Linked DNA regions of Homo sapiens: region 2 is linked to region 1. The links come from fine-mapping of genetic effects on gene expression. A gene starts in region 1. The other region holds a variant in brackets. All regions are shown on one strand. Distances are between the middles of the regions.

The links. PIP is the estimated chance that this variant, and not a neighbour inherited with it, causes the effect. A credible set is the group of variants that fine-mapping cannot tell apart.
Region 2: its variant is the best candidate, but not a certain one, in a credible set for the expression of SMG7 in monocytes after LPS (Fairfax 2014, PIP 0.62).

What each region holds. Positions count from the first base shown.
Region 1 is chr1:183,470,984-183,473,886 of GRCh38, forward strand. SMG7 (SMG7 nonsense mediated mRNA decay factor) reads left to right here and starts at 1,516. Exons shown (of 23, transcript NM_001375584.1): 1 at 1,516-1,666. The coding sequence starts at 1,638. SMG7-AS1 (SMG7 antisense RNA 1) reads right to left here and starts at 999. Exons shown (of 5, transcript NR_040063.1): 1 at 1-999. RefSeq lists an enhancer at 567-1,198 and a silencer at 1,354-1,503.
Region 2 is chr1:183,574,572-183,577,474 of GRCh38, forward strand. It overlaps NCF2 (neutrophil cytosolic factor 2), which reads right to left. Exons shown (of 15, transcript NM_000433.4): 4 at 1-50. Among named protein-coding and RNA genes, the nearest start is that of NCF2, 14 kb to the right of the region's middle. The variant C/T (reference allele first, on the strand shown) is at 1,959.

The DNA of each region.
Region 1 (2,903 bases):
CTCAACGACACAGAATGACGACTTTTAAAACACTGCAGACCCGTGAGAAGAGAAAGGTTGCAGAGCAGGGAGGAACTTGGAGGTCTGCCTTTAATAATCAAGCAGGATCCCCACTGCGGGGTGCCTATCAGAGTGATGGCGCTAGTCAGCCTTCCGGCTTGTCCCCGGCTTAAATGATAGAAAACCACGTGTTAGCCTTCTAGGATGTGTTCCCACCCTCACCCTGGCCTCCTCGCGGCAGGCTCGCGACAGCTAGGTCAGGAGGGAGTACGCGGGTGGGGTGGATTTGGGGGAGGGGTCGACTCGCCAGAAGTCGGCTATCCCCGTCGGCAGGGAAGGCATCGCGGCTGTCGTGTGCCGCTCTCCTCCCTCAGGGACCCCGTCCAGGCGGGATCCCGCCTCCCAGAGCCCAAGGCAGTTGTGGGGAAACCCCTTGCCCTTCCTCGCCGCTTGGCGCTGTCGCCTCGCCCTCCCGACTCCAGCCCGCCGCCCGCCAGCCTCCAGGCCATGCATCCTCTTCGCAGGCCCAGCCCTCTCCACGCCCGGCTCTGAGAGGAAACTACGGAGGTGGTTCCCGCTCGCAGGCGGGTGGAAAAGCCCATGGTGAATGCCTCGGGGTGTCCCCCCAGTTGCTGTGGGAAGTGGGAAGGGAGGAGGAAGTGGACTTCACCACCGGGGAGAACTATATCGATTCCTAACTTGGGGGAGGCCTTTAGATGGAAGGGAAGCCAACGGGGAACCCTGGGTGGTTTCCTGGGAATCCATTGGCCAAGGGGAGGGTGACCCTGTCCGCACACATCGGTTACTATGACAATATAACCACAGCCTCCAGTTGCCATGGCAGCTGCCTATCCAATCCGATTGTCTTCTCTTCCTCTCCGGGCCCCACCTTATCCCCTCCAAGAGTCTCCCAGCGTGCATGGGGAGGGGCTGCAGCGAAGAGGAGAGGGGGTCCTTCGAGTCACTCTCTACGCGCGAGGGAAGACAGGCGTTGAGGGACTGCTGGGAGGAACTGTAGGAGGAAGGGGCGGCGTTTCCGGTGGGGAAGAGTGGAGGCGTGCAAAAAGGAAGAGGGAAATCGGCAGGAGTGATAAGAAGGGGGAAGACTTTGAGTGTAACTCCCGTTCTTTTGGCCTGGGTGTTCCCGGTGGTGGGATTGGGATTGCCCCCTTGCGCGGGAGGAGAAGGGTGGATTGGCAGGAAGCCGCCAAGCGCCACCAGCCGGTCTCTCAGAAGCCGCACAGGCGCCACACAGCTCGTTGATCCCAAAAGGGAGCGCTACAGAGAGGCGGAAATCACTGAGGGACAGGCGCTGCTGAAATCTCGCGAGAGGGACCCCCTCCCTCGCCCGGTCGCCGACTTCCTCTGCTTCTCCTCTTTCCCCCGCCCCTCCTCCCTCCCCCTCCCCCCCGGGTCGGAGTGTCCCTGCGCCCCACGGGCCAGAGCAGCAGCGAGAGCAGCTTTCCCCACTCCCTCCCCCTCGCCTCATTCACCCCCACCCCCCTGCCGAGCGAGGAGGAGCCGGAGGAGAGGAAGATGGCGGCGGCCGCCAGCACCCGCGGTGCCGCGGGGCCGCTCCGAGGAGCCTGAGAGACCCACGGAGGCTTCGCGGGAAGACGCGGCGGCGGCGGCGGAGGATGAGCCTGCAGAGCGCGCAGTACCTCCGGTGAGTGCCGAGGCCGGGCTGGTACGTAGGGGGAGCGGGCCGCAGGTTGGGGCATGGAGCAACAGACACCGAGGTAAGTCCGGGGTGGCGGGGGAGTTGCTGCGTCCTCTCCTCGCCGGGCAGGTCGGCGGAGACTGCAAGGGGATCTGCGGGAGGGGGCGGAACGGGTATGGGTGCCTAGCCCCTACCGCCCGGGCTGAGCTCTGGCGAAGCCGGCTCGTCCCGGTGCGAGGAGGGAGGTTGGGGAAGCGTGAGAATGTGCGCGCGCGCCCTTGGTCTCGGGTTTGCTAGCGAGGGGTGGAGAGAAACGTCCGGGGAGGCGGCGGCGACCCCGAGTGGAGGTGGGTGTGGAGGAGTCTGATCCCCGTGGCAGGGGACTCGTGGTGTGGCGTGGGATTGGTTGGAGCGATGCATGAGTAGAGGACGGGGAGGAAGTCTGCACACCTGGGGTGTTGGGGCGGGGGAACCGCGGAGGGCAGACAGGGGGAGAGGGAGACCGCAGGAAACTGGAGCTTGTTCTTCATTCTCGGGTTGGGAGTATTGAGGAATAATGTCATCTGTAGTTAGTTGGCGGTGTGGGGAGGCGTGAAGGGGAATAGATGGGGAAGTGAGGAAAGAGGGAGGCACTGTGGACAAGGTTGGGTTTTTCAGAAGAAACTGGGTTAGAATCAGTGTAGTCGGAAGATACCATTCTGAGAGTCGTGTGTATTCATTAAGAGTGGTGTAAGGAACTTGTATGTCAGAGGTAGAGTGACACATGGGAATAGTGTGTGTGTGTGCGAGATGTGTGTCTGGGGTGGGGGGCGCGGCGATTGATGCACATTTCAGGATGAAGATGTAGATAGGTTGAACTTAGTACCTGATGGCGAGAACATATTGAATGGAAGGACACCAGCTTTTGTGTCAGCTGAAAGGTTCCATGGAAGCTGAGTAAGAGCTTGGAGGCAGAGGTAAAGTGGGTCAAAAATCTTGATAGAGAAAAGTAAGGTTGTTAGATCCTGAAATTAACTGGGGAGTGACTACTGCTTAGAAAAGGGGAAGACTTTAAAATTGGTCCTTTTTGTCTTTCAGGAGCAGAACTAAGAAAGGGAGGCCTTATGGAAAGATGTTTTTTAAAAAATTGTTTCATACCTTGCGGAGGAGGGAGTTGGATGAGGTGGAAGTCTGAAATGAGTGGAAAAGTCACTTTAGCTGTTTAGTGACATGAAAGTATTGACGTGTGTGGATCCCTATATGT
Region 2 (2,903 bases), 100 kb after region 1:
TTTTTCCATTCCTCCTTCTTGGCATACATGAAAGCAATGTTATATAACACCTAGAAAAGTACAGACCGCAACATAAAACTTGAGACTACTCCAAATCAAGGTGCCAGGGAAAGGCTCACACGTATACTCTGAGAATGTTGCCTGGTAGCCTTTCTCCCTTTCTCAGCTCTCCTGGGAATATCTAAAATATAGTGCAATTAGTCTTGCTATTGAGTTATGTCAAACACAAACATGGTGTTAAGAAAACACCATGGAATGCGTAAATGCAACATCATTTGTACTCTTCCAACAACGAAATAGGTCAGGAAGGGACAAGAATTATTGTATACAGTGTGTTCAAACCAGGTTAAAAAAAAGAAGAAGAATTGTTGTGTTGTTTTAGTATGAGTTGCTTTAGTAAAAGAGTGACTTGCTCAAGGCCCCTTCTAGAGGCAGACACAGGGTTGGGAATAAAATACAGGTGTGTGGTCTTCCAGTCCACCTCCTGCCACTGTACCTAGGCTGAAACACTGGACAGGTACAGAGCCGGAAGATGGATCAAGATGCAACCTCCTGTACCAGCACCAGCAGAACCTGGCCCAGACCATGTGAGTAACAAGACTAATGTAGCAACACAGGCCAGGCGCAGTGGCTCATGCCTGTAATCCCAGCACTTTGGGAGGCCAAGGCGGGTGAATCACTTGAGGTCAGGAGTTTGAGATCAGCCTGGCCAACATGGAGAAACCCTGTCTCTACTAAAAATACAAAAATTAGCTGGGCATGGTGGCAGGCACCTGTAATCTCAGCTACTTGGAGGCTGAAGCAGGAGAATTGCTTGAACCCAGAAGACAGAGGTTAGCACAGAAGCCAGGGGCACCTTCACCTCAGGTGGGGGGGGAATGGTAAATGCAACAGTGTCATACTTTTCCAGGTCTTGAGTTGGGCTGTGGTTCTTGAGTGTCTATTTTACTATTGTGCTTCACAATTTACACACAGAATCAAATAATCGTTTGGATGCATTACCAAGATCTAAAAAATGGCCCGACTGAAATAAATTTTTTAAATAGGATATTATGGAAATTAGGGGGTGTGACATTTGAGGCTAGATTATAAAAGACATTGACACTGTCTTGCTCTTGGGTCACTTGCTCTCAGAGACGCCAGCTGCCATGTCATGACAAGACTTAGGCAGCCCTAGAGAGAAGTTCATGTAGCGAAGAACTGAGGCCTCCTGCCAACAATGACGTGAACTTGCCAAACTCAGACAGGTGGAAGGATTGATGTTTCTGTGGCATTAGTGGCTGGTGCTGAATGGTGGGGGCCAGGATCAACCCCGGAAGTGGAAATCTGGACTCCTTTCAGTCCTATTTCTGAGATTCAATGAGCTACTGCCTTCTGAATTCGTTGGCTTCTCCAGCCCACTCCTGACCTTGTGTGCAGAAAGAAAGAACTCAGATCGTTTAAAATTTCCTATTTGGTTCTCAGCCACCTTCTCTTAAGACATTTCTCTACAATCAGTTTTTATGAACTAATGATGAGAAAAACCTTGACACTCTTCAAAAATAATGATGTGATTCTCAGAAGCCAGGGTCATACCACATCAGGAAGAGAAGGATTATAAGTAGGGAAATGACTGGAAGGTCCCATGTGACAAAGAGGGCCTTAGACCCTGAAAAGTTCAGCTTTACTTGCAGAGAGGGCCACTCAGCCAGTATTTTCTGTCCTCTCAGGGCCATTTTAACCCCAACTCCAGGGGAAACATTCCTCCCATGGAACTGTACTTTGATGCTGCTGTGACATAATCCTTTTTCTAGAGCCACTTGTCCCCCAACTTTCTAATCTGTATAAGTGGCTGTCATTGGCTTATTAGCAATGTCTGGAGGGATTTTAGGTTGTCACATTGGGTGGGGAGTGGTGGTGGCAGTGCTAGTAGCATCTAAAAGCTAGAGATGCCGTCAAAGTTCCCACGATGCGCAGGA[C/T]GCACCACAACCCCTCTCTCGCCTCTGCTACAATACAAGATTGTCTGGTCCAACATATTAACAGAGCTACAGCTGAGAAACCTTACTCGAGAAGTTGGTCGAATGGCAGCCAATTCCAACTGCAAAGCCCCATCTTCTCAGACTGTGAGACGTGAAGTTAGTTGCTAGCCTGCTGCAGGGTTGGGATGGGGCCATATGTCCCCAGGGGCCGAGGGCGGCTACAGACTCTATTATTAGCCCTGAGCGACCCTGGGAACACTTGACTTCTTGTGCCTGAGAAACTAAAGCAAGGGGACTTTTGTCAGTGATTTTTCTAAAGAAAGGTCTTTGACATTTACAGGAATTTTGGTTTTCAAAACTGCTAGTATATATTTGGAAGTGGGAGGGGTGGGAAGGGCCAACCGGAAAAAGTAAATGAACCTGCAAAGTCAAAGCCAGTCATGTCTCTCCCTTTTGATAATAGAGAAAAGAAGTTGTTTTGCAGAAACCTTTACCTAAATATGTGCCTTGAGCTGTTCTTTGAGCAAGAGGGGACAGATTTATGCCAAATTATCCTCAGTCTCTCTTTAGGTATCAATCAAGTACATGGGGTAAGAACCATGGATAGTAAAGAGTGTGGTCTATAAACTTGGGAACTGAGCAAGCTTCTGGCAGGTCCTGCACGGACAATGAACTCATGATTTTGGATTTGCTAGCAAAATGCTGAACAAATAGCTTGTCAATCTGAAGTGCCAATCAAAACATGCAAATTATCATGAATATTTCCACAAGCCAACACACTCGTGTCCAGCCTCCCTTCAGAGAGCCCGGGGGGCTCATTTTTGCATGGTCCTTTGCGCTTCACATTAATAAAATGTATGCCCCCAGGTAACTGATGACAATGCCTTGATGAGCCTGAAATAATCCATCTCAGTCTTTTCTTCAAGGAAAATCTGAGTCTCAAGG